3 separate regions of the Homo sapiens genome follow, and all the other regions are linked to region 2. Evidence: fine-mapped expression QTL. A gene starts in region 2. Each other region holds a variant in brackets. All regions are shown on one strand. Distances are between the middles of the regions.

The links. PIP is the estimated chance that this variant, and not a neighbour inherited with it, causes the effect.
Region 1: its variant is the best candidate, but not a certain one, in a credible set for the expression of NADSYN1 in thyroid (GTEx, PIP 0.86).
Region 3: its variant is the best candidate, but not a certain one, in a credible set for the expression of NADSYN1 in whole blood (TOPMed, PIP 0.56).

The regions. Positions count from the first base shown.
Region 1 is chr11:71,503,071-71,509,742 of GRCh38, reverse strand. It overlaps the pseudogene S100A11P3. Among named protein-coding and RNA genes, the nearest start is that of KRTAP5-7, 21 kb to the left of the region's middle. RefSeq lists an enhancer at 3,782-4,372. The variant G/A (reference allele first, on the strand shown) is at 3,840.
Region 2 is chr11:71,448,934-71,456,696 of GRCh38, reverse strand. NADSYN1 (NAD synthetase 1) reads right to left here and starts at 3,494. Exons shown (of 21, transcript NM_018161.5): 1 at 3,316-3,494; 2 at 1,527-1,587. The coding sequence starts at 3,400. It overlaps DHCR7-DT (DHCR7 divergent transcript), which reads right to left. Exons shown (of 2, transcript NR_186309.1): 2 at 4,540-5,007. It also overlaps a transcript of DHCR7 not described here. RefSeq lists enhancers at 2,337-2,836, 2,837-3,338, 4,576-4,655, 4,776-4,825 and a silencer at 3,396-3,765.
Region 3 is chr11:71,522,912-71,530,674 of GRCh38, reverse strand. It overlaps KRTAP5-7 (keratin associated protein 5-7), which reads right to left and starts at 3,408. Exons shown (of 1, transcript NM_001012503.2): 1 at 2,006-3,408. The coding sequence starts at 3,374. The coding sequence ends at 2,877. RefSeq lists enhancers at 2,519-3,018, 3,019-3,520. The variant T/C (reference allele first, on the strand shown) is at 3,589.

The sequences.
Region 1 (6,672 bases), 54 kb before region 2:
CAAAAATTCCTTCCTTTTAAAGGCTGTATAGTATTCCATTGTGTATATACACATTTTCTCTACCCATTCATCCATTGATAGACAGTTAGTTTGCTTCCATATCTTCGCTATTGTGAATAATGCTGAAATAAATGTGGGAGTGAATATATCTCTTCAGCAAATCAATGTCAGTTCCTTTGGATATATACCCAGAAGTGGAATTGCCAGATAATATGGTAATTCTATTTTTAGTTTTTGAGGAACCCCCATACTATTTTTTTAACAGCTGTACTAATTTACATTCCCATTAACAGTGTACAAGTGTTCCCTTTTTATCTACATCTTCATCAACACTTGTTATCTTTTGTCTTTTTGATAACAGTGATTCCAACAGGTGTGAGGTTATATCTCATTGTGGCTTTAATTTGCATTTTCCTGATTCTTAGAGATGTTGAGCATTTTTCATATATCTGTTGGCTATTCATATCTCTTCATTTGAGAACTGTTCAGATCCTTTGCTCATTTTTAATTGAATTGTTTTCTTGCTGTTAAGTTGGTTGAATTCCTTATATATTTTTGATATTCACACCTAATCAGATGTAAGGTTGAGAAATGATTGATGTTTGTGTGTCGATCTAAATCCTCAGACCTTGCTGAACTCACTGTTATTAGTTCTTGGGTTTTTGTTGTAGATTCCTTGAGATTTTATACATAGACTACTATGGTGTGTGCAAATATTTCTTCATTTCTCATCTGTATATCTTCTAGTTCTCTTGCCTTATTGCCCTGGCTAGAACTTCATTATGTTGAAGAGTGGTGAGAGTGGACACTTGTAATTGCTCCAAATGTTAGGGGAAAACATTCAGTTATCACCATTAAGCCTAAAATTGGCTATAGGTTTTTTGTAGATGATGAAGTGACACTCTAATCCTAGTTTGCTGAGTTTTTTAAAAATTATGAACAGGTGGTAAAAATTTCCAAATGCTTTCTTTGTGTCCCAATTGATGCAATTGTGTGAGTTTTCTTCTACAGCCTGTTAGCACAGTGGATCACATTGATTTACTTCCAAATGTGGAGCTAGTCTTACATGCTTGGAATAAACTCCACTTGGTCATGGTTTGTAATTCTTTAATATATTGCTGGATTCTATTTGCTTTCTTTTGTTGAAGATTTTGTGTCTATGTTCATGAGGGGCATTGGTTATTTCTTTTTTTGTATTGTCGTTGTCTGGTTTTGCTATCAGGGTAATACTGGCCCCTTAAAATGAATTTGGAAGGGTTCTCTTCTCCACTATTTTCCAGAGATTATGTAGAATTGGTGTTCAGTCTTTAAAAATTTGGTAATTCTCTGCATCTGAAAATTTAAAATTCCAACTTTCTTTTGGCATTTTAAAACTACACATTCAATTCCCCTAATAATTATAGAGCTATCCAAATTATCTATTTTGTCCTGGCTGAATGTTGGTAGTTTGTGCTTTTTGAGGAGTTGGTCTGCTTCACATAAGCTGTTGAATTTCTATGTGTAGAGTTGCTTGCACCGTTTGCTCATTATCCGGTTCATGTCTGTGGGGTCTGTAGTGATATCCCCAAACTTGGTATCCATTCCTGAAGCTTATAGTTTGTATCCTTGTATCCTCTCTTTTTTTTCTTTGTTGGTCTAGCAAGAGGTTTGTTAATTTTACTGATTTTTTTTAAAGAACTAGATTTTTGTCTCATTTATTTTCTCTATTTTTTGTCTCTAATTTCACTGATTTCTGTTCTTATCTGGATTTTTTTCTTCTTCTGCTTATGTTGGGTTTGATATTTTGAATATATTTTTATAGCTTTGTATGTATTATGATTTATATTACATTTTAAGTATATTTTTATAGAGTTCCTAGTGATCTTTTATTGAATACCAGATAAAGAGTATAAAAAACTGAGAAAGGTTTTGAGTGATGTTACTTTCTTGCAGAGACCATTTGTTTTCCTTCTGCGAAACAGTTAGACAAGCAGCAGATCACATTGATCCAGTGAGGCAGTAAGATAAGAGGCCAGGCTTTATTCTTTGTGAAGGAGTCTCTATTTCTGGCCTGTACTTCTCCCAGTATATAGTCTTGAGGGGTTTCAATAGAAAGCCTTAAGTTTTTACCAAGCCCTTTCTTATTAATCCTAAAATTAAATATTTATTTTCCAGAGCTACAAAACCTCCATAATCTCTGTTTTGCTTTAAAGGCTCTTCATGGATGCTTTTTGCTTAGCTCCTTGTCCTCTTTCCCCAGGCAGTTTCATAATCTTCAAGGGAAGAGGAGCTGCTGCACACTGGACTCACTTCTCTGAGCTCTTCTTTTCCCTGGAAGCTTTGCCCTGCAAGCTCTGGCTGCCTTTGTCACCCTAAAGTCTGATTTTCGGAAGGAACTGCCAATGCCTCAGCTGCTTTCTGCTTGTGCTCTTGTTCTCTCTGTCGCTAACGAATGGGCAGAGGCCCCACGGGAGGAGAGTGGAGCGCTGGCACCTGATGCATTCATTTCCCTTCTCACCAGGATCCAGGCACCTCCTGTCCTGGACACCTGGGTTTCTCTCTAGTGCTTTCAACTGCTGTTTTGTGTTAATTTTTTCTGGCTTTCCTACTTGTTCTCAGTGATTCTGTAGCTCAAATATGAGCTGTTCCATCAGAACCAGAAGAGGAGTCGCAATACGTATTTGAAAAATACACGAATAAATTATCTGCAAATTAAAAATAATCAGCTCTCCAGGAGTAGCTTCTATGGTGGGTGATGGCGACTATCTGAGGCTGGTGTCACAGGGGTAAAAGAGTTTACCAAGAAACTTGTAGGTTTTAAAAAAAGGCAGATTTATTAAAGAAAGGAAGGAAGTACATTGCAAGAAGGCAATGGGCAGGCCAGGAGAAGAGGAGCTGACTGCAAGGAGACAAAGGCTTGCAGGGGATTTTACAGGATGGTTCCTGGGCCATGTGCTGAAGAGGGCTGCATACAATACCTACAATGCCAAGGTTGCAGTGAGCTAACTTGCATTTTTCTATCAGCTGAGGGTCTGGTGATACCTGGGCATGGGAAGATTGTGAGCTATATGCACAGGAGGGCTGTGTGTGCTGGACTGTGAAGAAATGCAGACTTGTAGCTTATCTGCTTTCTCTTTTTGCTTTCCCTTGGTCCTGCCACCCTGGCTCCTTTTCCCTGATTAGGACGCCACAGCTTCCATGTGTTTTGATTTGTTAGATCTGACATGGGCCAATGAATTGTTTTTTCTTTAACTATATACAATCCTATTTTTCCCCTCATATAAGCCAATCCTAATGGAATAGAATCATCCTTTTCAAAAGCTTTTTACCAGAGGTCTCCACACCACTCCCAAGTACAGCCTCCCATGCCTCACTCAGCTACAACCTGGCAAAAATCTCCAGCCCTGCAGAGACTGAGTGGTGCATTGAGTCCCTGATTGCTGTTTTCCAGAAGGATCCTGGAGAGGATGGTTACAACTGCTCTCTCCAAGACGGAGTTCCTAAGCTTCATGAACACAGAAGAGGCTGCCGTCACAAAGAAGCAGAAGGACCGCAGTGTCCTTGACTGCATGACGAAAAGACTGGATGTCAACAGTAACAGGCAGCTAGATTTCCAAGAATTTCTTAATTCAAAATTGGCAGCCTGGCTGTGCATTGCCATGACTCCCTCCTCAAGGCTATCCCACCCTACAAGCAGACCTGAGGGCCCCTTCGGCCTGGCCTCCAAAGCCACCCCCTTTCCTTCCAGCTTCCTGTCACCATCTCCTCCTCACAGCCCACACGTCCCCTGAGCCCAGCACACCTACCTCCTCTGGCAGGCCCCGCCTGCGGGTAGAAATAAAACAGTTTTCACTCGCATC[G/A]GTGTGAAGAGACCACCAAACAGGCTTTGTGTGAGCAACAAGGCTGTTTATTTCACCTGGGTGCAGGCGGGCTGAGTCTGAAAAGAGTCAGCGAAAGGAGATAGGGGTGGGGCCGTTTTATAAGATTTGGGTAGGTAAAGGAAAATTACAGTCAAAGGGGGGTTGTTCTCTGGCAGACAGGAGTGGAGGTCACAAGGTGCTCAGTAGGGGAGCTTTTGAGCCAGGATGAGCCAGGAGAAGGAATTTCACAAGATAGTGTCATCAGTTAAGGCAGGAACAGGCCATTTTCACTTCTTTTGTGGTGGAATGTCATCAGTTAAGGCAGGAACCGGCCATCTGGATGTGTACGTGCAGGTTACAGAGGACATGATGGCTTAGCTTGGGCTCAGAGGCCTGACAACGTCACATTTTTAAAACATGAAAAAAAAAAGCTTTTTATTAACTACTCTGCTTAATTCAACTCCTTACTTCATATGTAGAGTTGATATAGCTGAATGCCTGCTGGATAAGTCAATAAAGGAAACCCTGACACTGCCACTTTGCAATGATAAAATAACTCATCAAATTGAAGATTTAACTGCAAACATAAAAACTGAGTAAACACAGTCTCTTCACATACATTTGGACAAATCTACAGACATCGCTGAACTTCTGGTATTGCTCTAGCACCAGCCCCAGCTAATTATTGGAAAAGGGTTTCTTTATAAGTGAATGGTTGGCAACAAACCAAAGTGCTGTCATCTCATAAACCGGACACTGAAAAGATTTGCAAAACAAGTACAACAATGCCACTCTTCTCACTTAGATGTTTTGTTTTTAGAAAATTTATTTTTTTGTAAAAATATGCTATTTCATGTTAACATGCAATGGGCTTATTATTTTTAGTGACTTCCTAAAATAAATCTATTTTTAGATTTCTCAGTTTTAATTTCTCAGGTAGCAACTATCAACAGATAAAAGCCACATAAGCAAATGCTCTTAGGGGTTTTGAGACCAAAGTGTTTGAGAATCACTGTCCTAGAGTTTTAAAACATTGGAAAGGGGAGGGGAATGTGTACCCCTGTCATTAACAGTATCCAGCTGAGAGGGAGGCTCGGGCTGACTGACTCGGGGTTCTATTGGAACACAGCCAGGCCTGTCCATCATGTATTGTCTGAGGCTGCTTCCTGCTGTCATGGGAGAAACTTTTGGGCGGATGCTGCTGGGAGCCGGTCAGACTGGGCAGACTGGATGAGAACAGGAGGATGAGAATGAGCAAAGGCACCCACGAGGAGAACAGGAGGAAAACCCACGCGTTTGGGGGCGACTAGAAATGCGCAGTGAGCCTTGGGGTCCCCTGTGCTGCCCTCAGGCTGCGTTTGCCTTGAGTGAAATATTTTCTCCAAAAGGCAGAGGAGAGGACAAAGCCCCCTGTGCATCTCCATTCTCCACAGCATCCCCAGGATGGCAGGAGGAGGTCCCCGAGAACTGCACAAGCTGTGTTTGACCCAAGGGGACTTTTTCCTCTTGAGGAGGTTTGCTGGGTCATGTCAGTGATGAGGTTTAAGGACAGAGCCCAGGACCCTCAGCAGCCTGGATATGGCCAGACGGAGCTGGAAGCTTCTCACTGGCCGAGCTCTGGTCCCTTCCCCAAAACTGAAGGGTCATTACCCTATCCTAATCTCAGCTCGACTCATGCCAGGAGGACTCAGTAGTAGACTGTCCTACCACTGGGGGACACACTATTGTGTAACTGAGGGACACTAGGCTGTATCTGGGTGGACACTGCCCTGTTACTAGGGGACACTAGTGAGTAACTGGGGACACTGCCCTGTACTGGGGAACACTATCCTATTATCCTGTTACTGGGGGACTCCAGCTTATAACTTGGGGACACTATAATGGGGGACATTGCCCTGCAATTGGGGGACATTATCCTGTTACTGGGGGACACTATCTAGTAACTGGGGATACTACCTTATAATGGGGGGACAATACTGTATAACTGGGAGACACTATGAGGGGACATTGCCCTGTAATTGGGGGACACAGCCCAGTAACTGGGGAGACATTGCCCTATAACTGATGGACGTCACCCTATAACTGTGGGGACTTACCCTATAACTGGGGAGACATTCACCTATAACTGGGGGACATCACCCTATAACTGGGGGGACATTCACCTGTAACTGTGGGGACATCACCCTATAACTGTGGGGACATCACCCTATAACTGTGGGGACATCACCCTATAACTGGGGGACATTACCCTGTAACTGGGAGACATTACCTCATAACTGGGGACACTATAATGGGGGAACATTGCCTTATAACTGGGGACACTACCCTGTAACTTGGGGATACACTATGCTATGACTGGGGGGACACTGCCCTGTAACTGACGGGATGCTATCCTGTAACCAGAAGATACTAACCTATGACTGAGGGACAGTATCCTGTAACTGGGGACACTGCCCTGTAACTGGGGGACACCACCCTATAACTTGAAGGTTGGGGACCAGGGTCTGGTGCCCCTGAGCTCAGTTCCTGCAGGTGGGAAGTTTTGGAGCCTCCGAGGGTAATTCCACAGGATGGGGCTGCCTTCAGGGTCCCAGCCTCACCTGATCATCTTTCGGGTGACACACTCCCCACCCCGTTGCCACACATCTGGGGTGCAGGAGGCAGCCAGAAGCCTCCAGCTCCCATCCAAGGCCTAAGGAGAATCTCAGGTATCCTGCTGGGTGCTCCCTGAGAAGGTGTGGGGTGCCGGCCACCCCAGTGCACTCAGACCTATCCGGGCAGGGGGCATCCACGATGTGACGTGGGTAACAGACTCTGGAGGAAGTGACGGAGA
Region 2 (7,763 bases):
CCCACTTTTAAAATGAAACAGGTCCATATTTGGAGGAAAGAGAGAGGTGGATGTAACATTTATAGGAGAGAGAGACTAGGACGAAGAAAGAAAAGAAGACGTAAACTCTAAGCATCTGGGCAACATCAGGCCAGGGGGACTGGGCTGTCACCACTGCAGCTCCTCCAGGGCAAGCAGCAGACAGGACATGAGGATCAGGCCCCCGGACCAGCCCAGGAGAGGTCAGGCTCACGAGACGATCAGGCCTTGAGTCCAGCCCAGGAGAAGATCCGGCCACGGGGCCAGGAGAGGATCGAAGCTTTGTGATATCAGACAGCCCAGAACCCTAGATCCCTTGGCACTTAGGTGAAGAATTTCTTAAAGAATCAATCAAATGAAGACAAATTAAAGAACAAAGTAAACATTCTTGGATATTATGGGAGAAACAGCCCTATTTGAAGGTGGTATTCTAAGGAGAGAAATCAATCTAATGAAGGAAAGAAACTTGGAAGGACTTAGAGAAAGATGCCTCTGGACTCACACAAAACCTCCTAAGAGAAGACAGTTCCTGCTTACTCTAAGTCCAGAAGCAAGAACACACACTAAGGCAGGGGACAAAGACTGAAGAGGAACTTCCAGATCCCACAACGGGTCAGAGGCCTAAAGACCAACGGGAAACTAGCAGAGCACAGATGGCAGCTGACATCCAAAATGAGAAAGGACTATCGCTTACAAGAGACTTACAACGTGGCTACTCATTGTTTTGTTTTCATTTTTGTTTTTGTTTTTGAAGGGACAAGAAGGGAAATAAGCAATCAGTTTTCCTGATTTTTACAAAAAGGCATATAAGAAACGATAACCTATGCTTGCTTGTGGAAAGATTCTGAGATCACGGAATGAAAACCTGGGAATATGTCTTGGTCCTTCAGCCTGCTATAACAAAACACCTTGGACTGGGTAATTAATAAACAGCAGAAATGTATTGCTCACAGTTCTGGAGGCTGGGAAGCCCACGATCAAGGTGCTGGCAGATTTGGTATCTGGTAAGGACTGGTTGTCTCCTTCTCTGTGTCCTCACATGGTAGAAGGGGCCAACAAGCTCCTTTGGGCCTCTCTTGTAAGAGCACTAATCCCATTCATGCAGGCTCCACTCTCATGCCCTCATGACCCAATCACCTGCCAAAGGCCTCATCTCTTAATTCCATCATCTGGGGGTTAGGTTTCAACATATGAATTTTGTGGGGACGCAAACATTCAGACCACAGCAAAAGGGCAGTGGTAACACAGAAGCAGCCCAACTTTGAAACTGGCCTTCATCTGGTAAAAGTCAGTTCTTTTAATTACTCAACATGGGAATCTAGACTTATTCAGCCTCCCTGGGCCTGCCCTTGCTCAGGTGTTCAATGGCATTAACCAGGCCCAACAGTGGGTGTGGCGTGTCCACAGCTCTCAGGACTGTCCCTGCTCCTTCCTTGCCTTCTCAGCTGGGGAAAACTGATGCTGGTATCGCTAGCTGACGACCCCAGGGTGTCTGTGTCTGTTCTCACCATATTTCCAGCTCTGGTCCAAGCCTGTATCTTGCTCCTCTGTTTTTGGCAATTTCAATACCTGTAAGTACAGAGAGAAAAAGAAAATGGAGCAATTTCAGCACCTATACACTCAAAGACAGATGAAACAACCTGCTGCAGTAGGTAGGATAAAAAAAAAAACAAACAACAAACAAAAATGCTCTGTGCCTTCCCAGACGGGATGCAGTCAGGCTTCCTGTTGACAGCATGGCAGCAGAGGGCAGCATACACCTGTATACACCTGTATACACGAGTACGCCTGCACCTGCTTATACTTGCATATACCTGCTTATATCTGCAGGAAATGAGAAACAGGGAGGGCTTGCAGGTCTGACCCTTAGCACCATGGAGGAGGCGGAGGAAGAGGAAGAAGTCAGACCCTGGTAGTTTATTAACAAGGAAATGCCCAACACCATCTAGAGGAAAAAGGACTTAGAGGATTACGATCCAGCAGTGGTGCCACTGTCAGGCACCATCGGCTTACTGGTCTTGGGCAGCAGCTTCCAACAAGCACCTAGGGAGGAGAGGCTGGCAGAGTGGAAACTTAGTTTTGGCCAAGCCTTCTTCAGTTCAACTAGATTTGCTCTGAGCAAATGAGGTGAAAGCAGGTTGATATTTAAAAAATAAAAATAAAAAACCACTGGCTGCGGTGGCTCATGCCTGGAATCCCAGCACTTTGGGAGGCCAAGGCAGGTGGATCACTTGAGGTCAGGAGTTCGAGGCCAGCATGGCCACCATGGTGAAACCTTGTCTCTACTAAAAATACAGAAATTGGCCATGCATGGTGGCAGACGCCTGTAATCCCAGCTACTCAGGAGGCTGAGGCAGGAGAATCGCTTGAGCCCAGGAGGCAGAGACTGCAGTGAGCCAAGATGACACCACTGCACTCCAGCCAGGGCAACAGAGTGACAGTCCATGTCAAATAATAATAATCATAATAATAATCCAGGGCACATACTGATTAGATGCCATCTCTTGAAACATTCTGTTTCTATTGTTCCTGGCAAAGGCTCTTGCAGTCAGCAGACCAGTGCAAGACAAGCTGCAACCTGACTACACCTGCAGGCTTGCCCATTTAGGTGCAGGTGTAATAGTTTAACTTTTCATCCTCCACGGTGCGTCCATATGAACGAAAATTAGATGGTGACCTTTCAACAACCACACCCTATCTTCGAGGCCACCACGCCCGGCTGATTTTTGTATTTTTAGTAGAGACGGTGTTTCACCATGATGGCCAGGCTGGTCTTGAACTCCTGACCTCAGGTGACTTCCACCCCCTCCGGCCCCCCCAAAATGCTGGGATGACAGGCGTCTTTTTCTACTTCCCTTTCTGGGACGCCTTCTCCCACCAGGAAGGCCCACGGGGACCAGAGACCATCAATCTCTGGCCTCTGCACACCATCCCCGCCAGTGCGCAGCCATTCTGTTCAACTTAGATATCTCCGAGAATGGGCAGCTCAGTCCCAACCACGGGACCCCAGAGATATCAGAACACGGGTCCATCCCCAGGCCTCCCGCCTAAGCCGCCAGACTTTTCTTAACCGTGCCTTGTATATCGCTCGTCCCCGGGAACTATAAACACTCACTTCCCGACGAGGACCTGAGCACGTACCACTGGCGGGGTCATTGCCCATTATCTCACCTGATCCCATGCCCAGGGCCGAGAGTTTCCCAGGGCAAGGCTGTGAGCACGCCACGGGCAAGCCTGGGCCCAGCCACGGTGCCCGTGCGCCACCCCAAACCGGTGCCCCCGCCGCCCCAGACTCACTCTTTAAAATTCTTTGCAAATTGCCCTCGAAGTCCAGGGCCCACTGGTTGAGTGCGCAGGTGGCCACGGTCACCTTCCGGCCCATCCTGGCCGCAGTCGCTTGGGCAGGAGGCCAGCGGGGGACAGCAAGACCAGGGTCCCAGCGAGGTAGGCGGCTGGGACGCCGGACCTTCCGGGTTGCCCGGCCCCGCCCCCTCCCCGCCCATCCGTTGAGGCTCCGGCCAAGGAGGACTGCGGCGTCAGGCCCTGCCTACGGATCGCCCCGCCCCGTCTGAGGAGCTCACGACCGCGCCTGCGCAGCGAGGTGGCCTCAGCGTTCACGGCACCGCGAAGGGCCCCGCCCCCGCCCCGGCTCCACCCACGTCCCAGGCCCCGGCCCCGGCCCGGCCCTTGCGGGCAAACCCGTTCAGGTGCACAGGTGCAGGGGGCTCACCGCCCAGCTGCAGCACCCCTCTATTTTATCCCACACCGCCACCCCACATCCAGCTTAGCCATGTTTTATTTTAATACGGCATGAAACGTTCCAAATACACCAAAAGTGGAGAGTACGGTAGGAGCGCTCCATCGTGCCCGCGGGACAGCAGACGATAGCAATCGATTCTCCGTGCTGGGAATCCCGCCACCCTGGGCGGATGGCGCTGAATTCTTGGGAACCCTCTCCTGCCCCTTTCACTCCTGTACCACGTGTGTAAGTAGCTCAGGTAGCGCACTGTTTGCCTTTTCTGAAACTACAGGAACTGCACTTGAATGTGCTTCTGCAACTTGATTTTTTCCCCTGTAATATGAGATACGTTCTTTTAATTATTTTTCTGCAGTTTGGTATTCCATAGTGGCAGTAAAGCAGGTTTATTCAATAGCGGATGGGCATTGACGTTATTAGCAGCGTTTTGCCAACAGACGCACGCACACAGGCACTGCTGCAATTTCCTTTCCGGCAAGGTTTCCTTCGTGACCTCGTTCCGCCAGTTCCTGCAGCAGCTTTGCAGAGTAGTAGGGTTCGTGCTGTTTGACTTTACTAAATATTGCCAAGTCTCTTCTCCAGGGCGCTTGCACCGATTCACTACCAGCGGTTTCTCACTTTTTATTTTTTCACATTTCCTCTTTAGTCCACCCACGGTAGAATCCATTTTTCCCCCATATAAATAACTGCCTCATCATCGTTGCTTGAAGAGGCCATCCTTCCTTCTGTCATTCATGTTAGTTTAAAAACACACAATTCACAAATTTGGAAAAAGAGAAGGCTTTATTTCTTGTAAACGGTCGTAGCCTGCAAGGTGGCGGCCATCTGTCTGAGGCTGGGAATCTGTCTCCAGCCAAGGCCAGAGACAGGCACGTCCAAGGAGGAGGGGTTGGGGCAGGAGCGCTATGCTGAAGGGATTGGCTAAACATACATATTCAACAGGTAACAGGAGGAGCTATGAATATTCATGAAGGTGGTCCTGACACATGCCCTCTTATTGAGCAAAGCATGTAATATATGACCCATGTTCACTTTGGGGTGGAGACTTAACATTTACACATCTTACAATTAGGGCCTTTATGGCAAAACGTCTTTTCAGGACACAAAGGCATGCAGGTGCATCATCTCTCTCTATTAACGGGTCAGCTGGTCGGCATGGTCAGCTGGTCGGTGGTCTCTTATTAGGAGAAAGTCACTGAAATCAGTCTCTTGTCCAATCACAGCTGCTATGGCTGGTGAAACAGAGTCAGTTAGTTGGCACCTAGTGGAGCTGCAATTGTTTTAATATTCCCTATCCCAAGGCTAGTGTGTGTTTGGCTAATAGAGAAACAGAAAGCCTTGTGGCTCTTAGAATATAGTTTATTCTCTAAGTGTGGGTTGCCTGACTTACCCTCGCCTAGCATGGCTTTGGGTCCTGTTTATAATTTGGTATCTTATTGCCACAGAGTCCGTTCTGTCAGTCTTACGATCTCTGTTTTAACATGAATGCCGGCCAGTTGTGGTGTCCAAACTCTGAAACAGGGGGCTATTACCAGGCGCATCTGACCTCCCATCCCATCATGTCTGGGAATTCAGTGTTGAGGTTTTTCTGGTGTCCCCTTGGTCAGGAGAAGGTCCCTTTGGTCAATGGGGGGCTTAGGATTTTATTTTTACCTTATGTACATATACCCGTTTTCACATTTTGAATCACTTTTTTTCCTGTCTATAAAGTAGTGCTTGTTCATGACAATTTGGAAACTCCACAAAAGCACCAGAATGTTATACATGCTAACTTATTTAATCCTCACAGTAGTTTTCATGCTTCTGAAATCCACACGATCTGCTCAAATTATCTCCTGCCAACAATGGCTGATGCCAGGCCTGGGCAGAGAAGGGGAGGATCCTTGAACATCTGGTTGTCCCAGAAAATAAGTAAGTACTCAAAGGATGGTAGATACATGTCATATGAAAAAAGAAGCCAATTTGAAGGGGCTCCCGTTAGCTAAATACAGGACAATACAGTAAGGATCATAACTCGGTCAGCTAAATCCATTAGGGCATACTGATAAAAAATAAATCAAAGAGGAAATCCCTACAGAAGAATGCTTGCTAATAAATAATTTATTAATAAATGTTGAGGGAATGATAAAATTAGAAAATTAACACTTTGTCCCAAGAAATAAGGGATTCAGGCAAGATTCCTCATTAAATGCTAGTTCACTGGGTGAAAGGTCATTTGGGAACAGCATATTTACAGTCTCAAAGTATCACTGCACCAATTACTCATTAATAACAAAAGGAAAAATGGAGACTTCTGGCAGAAACCACGGAGCCCCACTATCAATCATGGAGCACAGTGATATGTTGTCTTAAAAAAGAAAATTTTAGGACTCTTGAAATTTATTAGGTCAACTTGGGCAACAGAGCAAGATCCTGTCTTTAAATAAATAAATAAAAATAAATAAATTTATTATGTCAAGAGGGAAGTTAAGTCCTAGAAACTGGGTCACATAGCATGTTTGTAATTTTGTCTTTTAGATTATAGGCTGTTTTTCTTTATCATTCATGTTTTATAAATGACTAGGAGAGACCACAGACCAGGCCTGCTCCCCTTTTAATTACTGATCTTTATTATAGATTGTCTCTTATTATCCCGTACTTAGACCAGACTCCTACATCTTCAGTGTAAAATGTTAAATATACCTTCCACCTAAAAAAGACCACCTCAGCTGGTCAGATTATAACTTTATGCATAAAAAGATGTTAAAATTCTGTTAAACTTCCCTAAAATTTGTCTACATAAATGATCCCAAACATCTACAGTTCAAAATACTGATTTCCATTCTTTAAAATCTGTGCTTCCCAGGCAGCCTGTCCTCAAACTTTATACACTTAAATAAACTCTCTTTAAGCTAAATTCTGACCTGTTTGGTTATTTCAGGTTGACAGCCTTCTAACAAGATAAAACATGCTCTATGTAGTATATTATCCTGCCAAAAAAAGTGCATAGCCTGAATGCACAGTGTGGCTCCCTGATTAGATCCTGGGGTTTAAAAAAGGGCTGTAGGGCAGAGCTTCACACCTGTAGTCCCAGCACTGTAGGAGGCCACAGTGGGTGGATCGCTTGAGCCCAGGAGTTCGAGACCAGCTTGGGGAACATAGTGAGACCCCCCCCCCCACCCATCTCTACCAAAAAAAAAATAGCGTGTGGTGGTGTGCTCTTGTAGTCCCAGCTACTCAGGAGGGTGAGGGAAGAGAATCGCTTGAGCCCAGCAGTTCAAGGCTGCAGTGAGCTGTGATCGTGCCACTACACTCCAGCCTGTGTGACAGAGACCCCCGTCTTAACAAAGCAAAACAAAACAACAATAACAAAAGGGCTGTAAAGGGCATTATTGGGACAACCGCGGGAAACTGGAGATGGAAAATAGATAACAGCATTGAACTGATGTGGTCATTGTATTTTGGTAATATAGGAGGTTCTTGTTCTTAAGGAGTTGGATACCGAAGTATTTGGGAGGGGGGTATCACGGTATCTGCAGCTAATGGTGGGGGCTGAGTGGGGAGGAAAAAAGAAAAATACACATATATAAACACAGAGGGAGAGAAATGAAACGTGGCCAGCTGCTCACCCCTGCTGAACCTAGGAATCTGCGTGCTCACTTTACGTTCAACTTGTTTGTATGCTGAACATTTTTCAAAACAAAAAGGTGCAGGGAAAAAAGAAAACATGATGTCTCTCTGAGGGCCACAGAGACGTGGCAACCAGATCGCTCTGACAGTAAGGCCTGTTACCCGAGCTGTTGGGTGTGGGGTCAGCAGACACCTTCAGCTGCCCCCTCCTCCAGGGCTGCCTCGCCCCAGGTCATGCCCTCGCAACGTGGCCCGTGCGTCCGGCTCGCACTGTGGCTCAGCTTCTCCCTTTGCCCAGTCCTGCTGCTCCCTCCCCTCCCGTCCTCGCACAGGTGTGCCCCCCTAATAAGCAGGCCACCCAGACTCCATCTCGGGTCAC
Region 3 (7,763 bases), 74 kb before region 2:
GGAACGTTAGTGGTCATGGTGGGGGAAGAAAGAGAGAATGCAGAAAACTGCAGCAGGTGCTTCAAACTTCTTCCCACTGACGCAAGCAAATCACATGGCCACACCTGACTTAGAGAGGGCTCATGAAAGGGCCACCCTATTACCTGCCATCCAACCTGTTCCCAGAAGGAGAGGAGAACCAGGATGCCTACAAATAGCCCTAATTATCACCCCATTCTGTGCTCTGCGTGGCAATGCTGCCAGTCCTATAGATAGGTTTTTGGCTAAATGAGCTTAAGTTTTTCATTTTTACTCTAACATATGCATTTAAGGCTATAAATTTTCCACTGATTTGGCTGCATGCAGTAAATTTGATAGCCCCATTATTTCATTAGGGGTTACAAAATGATGAGTTTCTAATTCTATGATTTCTTCTTTATTTATAAACTGGAATACTTCCTCTAATTTTGTTACCATAAGATAGAGTTTGTCTGTCAGAGATAGAATAAGTGCCTGATTATTTTCCTTTACTTAGTCATCTTTAAAATAATGAACTGATTCCTAGAATCCTCTAAAGGCAACTAAGTTTTACAGTTTGCATAGGATCTGTATTATTATTTTTTGTGTATGATTACTCACTCCTAGTTTAAACATATTTGATGTGTATCAGTCCATTTAAGAAATTGGTGTTCAGGTTGTCCCAAGTCTGTCTACAGAGAGTTTCTCTAGGTTTGCCTCTCACCATTTTTTTTTTCTTTTTTCTGAGACAGAGTTTTGTTCTTGCTGCTCAGGCGGGAGTGCAATGGCGCCACCTCAGCTCACTGCAATCTTTGCCTCCCAGGTTCAAAGGGTTCTCCTGCCTCAGCCTCCCATGTAGCTGGGATTACAGGCATGCACCACCACACCCAGCTAATTTTTTGTATTTAGTAGAGACAGGGTTTCACCATGTTGGTCAGGCTGGTCTCGAACTCCTGACCTCAAGTGATCCACTCGCCTCAGCAGCCATGCACCACCACACCTGGCTAATTTTTTGTATTTAGTAGAGACAGGGTTTCACCATGTTGGTCAGGTTGGTCTCGAACTCCTGACCTCAAGTGATCCACTCGCCTCAGCCTCCCAAAATGCTGGGATTACAGGCATGAGCCACCTTGCCCGGCTGACTCTTTAGTTCTTTTGATGTGACTGCATTAGTCTTAGTTATCATCTCTGCTTTCTGGGATAACAAGATGTTCTAGATTTGTCTTGTTCGCTTCCAGCCCATTCACCAGAGAAGCCAGGTTCCAGGTAGATACAATAAATAGCATTTGAAGATAACAAACAGTCTTGGTGCTAGGAGTGTTCACTGCTACAGGATGGCTCATTATTTCTAAGTCTTCCAATGGAGGAGGAAACTATTTTTATTTGGATAAAAAACATCATGATTTCATATCGATATATCTAATTCAAATTCAGGATGACAAGGTTTTTACTTAACCTCATCAGTTCCACACCAAAAATTCTAGTTCTGATACCAACCTAATTATGCATTTGCTTTTTCCATACAGCATTCACAGCAGAATAACGACACCACTGCTGCCACCATGACTACTAAAAATAGCTTAGGAATTTTATTTTTGTGTTCTTTCTATGCTTAGGACATATCCCACCAATAAATTGCTGTGTTTCCAAATAACTTGAAATAATTCAACTCTATTAATATTGCCTTTTTTTTTTTTTGACGGAGTCTTGCTCTGTCGCCCAGAATGGAGTGCAGTGGCGCGACCTCGACTCATCACAACCTCCCCCTCCCAGGTTGAAGCCATTCTCCTCCCTCAGCCTCCGAAGTAGCCAGGATTACAGACACGTGCCACCACACTCAGCTAATTTTTATATTTTTAGTAGAGACAGGGTTTCACCATGTTGGCCAGTCAGGTCGCAAACTCCTAACCTCAAGTGATCCGCCTGCCTCGGCCTCCCAAAGTGCTGGGATTATAGGCGTGAGCCACTACGCCCGGCCCTTTCAAAATTCTTAAAAAGCAATATTGGCTTGGTGCTAGGAGTGTTTATTTACAGAGGCAACAGGCTGTGTAACAACAAAGACAATCAGAGTAAGTTGGTTACAAAAACTTCCCAAAGGAAGATGGCAGAGGCCTGGACCAGGGAAAGGAGGCAAGTCTGAACTCCCCAGAGTTTTCAGCAGCCTCTTCTGCTTCTGTGGCCCTGGCCTGAGGAACAGTCCTGTCTCCATCAGATCAATAGCTGGAAAGACCTAGGAAGAGAGGGGTTCTGAGAAAAGAGGGGTCAGCCAGGAAGGAGATGAGAGGCAGAGGAGACAGCCAGCCCCATCCTAGCACCTTCCAGCAACATCAGCATCAGACCCACGCAGTCCGAAACACAACAAGAACAAGAAAACAATAGCCATAGCCATAGTAATGACCCCGAACAACAGAGAAATCAGCAAGATATGTGTTTCAGTTTGTCGGCATGGTATTTTTATTAGTTTGCAACTTTTCATTTAAGATAAAGCAGAGTGTTGGACAGGCAAAGCCACTCCAAGGAAGCCTCTTAAACGCCCACCTTGTTGCAGGTGGGACACTCATGCCCAGCTGCTCCAGCTGGAAAAGACAGGACTTCAAGTGGGTTCAGGAGCTCAGGCCTCTGAATACACAAGCAAAGGCAAGGCTAGCGGGTGAGGGGTGATTCAGCCGCAGTTGCAGTTGACTTGGGAAGAGAATTTGTTAGGAGGGAATGGACATTAATTAGGGTGGACTCTCCTTAGGAAAAGGCAGGCAGATATGGCTTCATCTTATAGTGAGGAATGGACCCTGAGCAGTGGTTTGGGGCTCAACGATGAAGGACAGGTCACAGCTTCGGAAAATGGGGTTAGCAGGACTCACATGAGACCTGAGTCCAGAGCCTCAGATCTTACACTGGCAGCACACGGGGACACAGCAGCTAGACTGGGAGCAGCAGGGATTGCAGCAACTGGACTGGCAGCAGGATGACCCACAGCCTGAGGAACAGCAGCAGGGCTTACAGCAGCTGGACTGGCAGCAGCAGGGCTTACAGCAGCTGGACTGGCAGCAGGATGACCCACAGCCTGAGGAGCAGCAGCAGGGCTTATAGCAGCTGCACTGGGAGCAGCCACAAGAACCACAGCCCCCCTTAGAACCCCCACAAGAGCCACAGCCCCCCTTGGAGCCCCCACAGGAGCCACAGCCTCCCTTGGAGCCCCCACAGGAGCCACAGCTGGAGCAGGAACAGGCTGGCACACAGCAGCACACGGGCTTGCAGCAGCAGACGGGCACACAGCAGCTGGAGCCACATCCCCCACAGCCAGAGCCACAGCCCCCACAGCCGGAGCCACAGCCCCCACAGCCGGAGCCACAGCCTTCGGAACAGCCACAGCAGCCCATGGTTCTGGTGGATTGAGGGTGGAGCAGGTAGAGGAGCAGGTGAGAGGGAGGTGCAGGTGTGGAGCCCCCTGAGCCCGGGCTCTTTATATACCTGTCCAGAGGTCAGGCACAATACAGGGTCGCTTCCTTGTGACTGTTTACGCTATTTTTCCAGAGCTCTATTTTTTTTCCTCTTTGCTAGTGACTTCCTCCTGGCTCAGTTGAGCATCTACTT[T/C]CTTTGTTTACTAAATTTGTCTTTTTCCCTATTTGTTTTGGCCCCTACAATTGAAACCTCAGCTCCAGGCTGTCTGGTGCTTCCCGCAAAGCTCCAGGGTGCTGGTCACCTGCTCTCTGCTGACCACATGTGACCAATGGGCAACAGCCTTTGCCCACGTGCTCTCATCTTTCCTGTGTTGACTCCCCCAGGAATATTAATTTCACATTTTTAGATTTCAAAATTATCCATGGTCTTTATATTTTACTCATGCCATTCTCAGTTTTGCATTGCTCTAAAGAAATACTTGAAGCTGGGTAATTTATAAAGGAAAGGTTAGAATGGCTCATGGTTCTGCAGGCTGCACAAGCATGGCACCCACCTCTGCTCAGCTTCTGGGCAGGCCCTCAGGGAGCTTTTCCTCATGGTGGAAGGTGAAGCAGGAGCAGGCTCACCACATCGTGAGAGTGGGAGCAAGGGGTGAGGAGGGGCCACACACTTGCGAACAACCAGATCTGAGTGAACACACTCATCACCAAGGAGATGGCGCTAAGCCAGTCATGAGGGATCCGCCCCCATGACCTAAACACCTCCTTGCAGGCCCCTCCTTCAACACTGGGGATTACATTTCGACAAGAGATTTGGAGGGGACATCCCAACTGTATCATTATCCCCTTGACCCCTCAAATCTCATGTCCTTACATTGCAGAATAGAATCATCTCTTCCCAACAGTCCTCTCAATGTCTTGACTCATTCCAACATCAAGTCCAAAGTCCCAAGTCCAAGTCCCTTCCACCAATGAACTTGTGAAAATCAAAACACATTATTTACTTTGAAGATACATGAGGGTGGAGGCATTGGGTAAACATTCCCATTCCAAAAGGGAGAAATCAGCCCAAAGGAAGGGGCTACAGACCCCATGCATGTCTGAAATCCAGCAGGGCAGCCATTAAATCTTAAAGCTCCAAAATAATGTCCTTGGACTCCCAGTCCCACATCCAGGGTACACTGGAGTGAGGGGTGGGCTCCTAAGGCCTTGGGGAACTCCACCCTTGTGGCTTTGCAAGGTTCGCACCCTGCAGCTGCTCTCATGGGTTGGAGTTGTGTGCCTGCAGCTTCTCCATGCTCAAGATGTAAGCTGCCAGTGGCTCTACCATTCTGGGGCCTGGAGGATGGTGTCCTCCTCCCCACAGCTCAATTAAGCAATGCCCCAGTGGGGACTCTGTGTGGGCCTCCTACTCCACATTTCCCCTCTACACTGCCCTAGTATATATCCTCTGTGCGGGCTCTGCCCCTGCAGCAGGCTTCTGCCTGAGTGCCCAGGCTTTCTCATAAATCCTCTGCAATCTAGGTAGAGGATCCCAAGCCTCCTTCACTCTTGTATTCTACGCACCTACAGGCTTAACACCACATGGGAGCTACCAAGGCTTATGGCTTGCACCCTCTGAAGCCAGAGTTACATTTGGGGTCTTTTGAGCTGAGGCTGGAGCTGGAGTAGCCTATGTGTGGGGAGCAGTGCTCCAAGGCTATGCAGGGCAGTGAGGGCCTGGGGTGAGCCCCTGAAACCATGGTGTCCTCCTAGACCTCTAGGTCAGTGATGAGAGGGGCTGTCTCAAACACTTTTGAAATGCATTTGAAGTCTTTTCCAATTGTGTTGGCTATTAGCACTTGGGTTTTTTTGTTTGTTTTTTGAGTCATGCTAATATCTCTAGCAGGTGGTTGCTCTATAGCCTGCTTGGATTCCTCTCCTGATAATGCTTTTTCATTCTCTGCCACATGGCCATGCTGCAAAGTTTCCAAACTTTTACACTTTGATTCCCTTTTAAATATAAATTCCAACTTTAATTCATTTATGTGCTCTTGCATGTGAGAATACGATGTTAGATTCAGTCAGGCCACAGCTTGAATGTTTGCTGCTTAGAAATTTCTTCCACTAGATATCCTAAGTCATCACTCCTAAGTAGAAATTTTCAGAGCCCCCTAGGGCATGAAGCACAATATGGTCAAGCTCTCTGCCAAGGTGTAACACAAGTGATCTTTGTTTTAGTTTTCAGTAAGTTCCTCATTTCCATCTGAGACCTCATCAGGCTGGACTTCATTGTTCTTATCACTTTAATTATTTTGGACACAACCATTTAACCAGTCTCAAAGGAGTTCCCACCTTTTCCTCATCTTTCTGTCTTCTTCTGAGCCCTCCAAAAATCTTCCAATCTCTGGCCATTACCCAGTTCCAAAGTCACCTCCACATTTTCAGGTGACTTTATAGCAACATACCATTCCTGGTACAGTTTTCTGTATTTTTTGTGTTGCCATAAAGAAATATCTGAGGCTGGGTAATTTATAAATAAAAAAGGTTTAATTGGCTCCTGGTTCTGCTAGTTGTACAAGCATGGCACCGACATCTGCTCAGCTTCTGGTGAGGCCCTCAGGGAGCTTTTATTCATGGTAGAAGGCAAAGCAGGAGCAGGCATGCCACATGGTGACAGCTGAGAAAGAGAGAGCTGGTGGAGGGACAGAGGCCACACATTTTTTTTTTGAGATGGAGTTTTGCTCTTGTTACTCAGGCTGGAGTACAATGGCATGATCTCGGCTCACCGCAACCTCCGCTTCCCAGGTTCAAGTGATTCTCCTGCCTCAGCCTCCCGAATAGCTGGGAGTACAGGCATGCACCACCACACCTGGCTAATTTTGTATTTTTAGTAGAGACAGGGTTTCTCCCTGTTGGTCAGGCTGGTCTCGAACTCCTGACCTCAGGTGATCTGCCCACCTCAGCCTCCCAAAGTGTTGAGATGACATGCATGAGCCACCATGCCTGGTCAGTGCCACATATTTTTAAACAACCAGATCTTGCTCGAACTTATTCATCACCAAGGAGATGGTGCTAAACCATTCATGAAAAATCTACACCCATGATCCAAACACCTCCCAGCAGGCCCCACCAACATAAGATTTGGAGGAAGCATGCAAACTATATTACTGGGGATCACTTTTTTTTTTTTAGATGAAGTCTTCCTCTGTCACCTGGGCTGGATTGCAGTGACGTGACCACAGCTTACTGCACCTTCAAACTTCTGGGCTTAAGGAATCTTCCCGCCTTGGCCTCCTAGGTAGCTGGGAATATAGGCATGTATCACCATACCCAGCTAACTTTTAAACTTTTTGTAGAGATGGGGCCTTGCCATGTTGCTCTGGCTGGTCTCAAACTCCTGGCCTCCAGTGATCCTCCTACCTTGGCCTCCCAAAGTGCTGGGATTGCAGGTGTGAGCCACTGCACCCAGACAATATCCTTTCCTTTCCTATCCAAATAAGAATAATCTATCCTCATCTTGTTGTTTGTGGGGAATCTTTTCCCCTACTCAATTATTTCTGAAAATCTCACAAGTCTCTCTGCTGTTGTTTTCTCTCTTCCCCAGGCAGAGTGTTCACTCCTCTTAGGCTGCTTACTTCAGCTGCTCAGCTGGGTTCCCTGCTCAGTTGTACTCCATGTGGGGAGAGAGGTTCCTTTATGCCATGGTCTGCATGTGTCCCCCAAAATTCATGTATTAGAAACTTCATCCCCAATGCAAGAGTGTTGGGAGGTGGGGCCTAACAAAAGGTACTTGGAATGAATTAGTGCTGCTCCAAGAAGGACTTGAGAGAGGGCATTCACCCCTTTCTGTTCTTCTGCCATGTGAGGACAACATATTCATGCTCTCTTGCCCTTCTGCCTTCCAATATGTGAAGACACAGTAAGAAGGCCCACACCAGATATCAGCACCTTGATCTTGGACTTCCCAGCCTTCAGGACTCTGAGAAAGTACATTTCTGTTCTTTATCAATTACCCAGGTCAATTATTATCTTATAGCAGCAATAATGGACTGAGGCACTCTAGTCACAAAACCATTGCTTATATGAGGCTACTTTCTTTGTTTAAGGGATGCATGCTAAACCCTGAGGAGAGCATAAGAGGGGCACATTACTGAAAAGAAACTGAAGTCTGCTTACCAGATGTCCCTGCTCCTCAAATCTCTTGGCCGTGCGATTGGGCATTGTTTCACCAGTGTACTCACCTAAGAACACAGCAGCATGTCACCAATGTACTCGCCCAAGAATACAGCAGCATGTCCTCAGCATTCTCACCCAAGAATACAGCAACATGTCACCAGCGTACTCGCCCAAGAATACAGCAACATGTCACCAGCGTACTCACCCAAG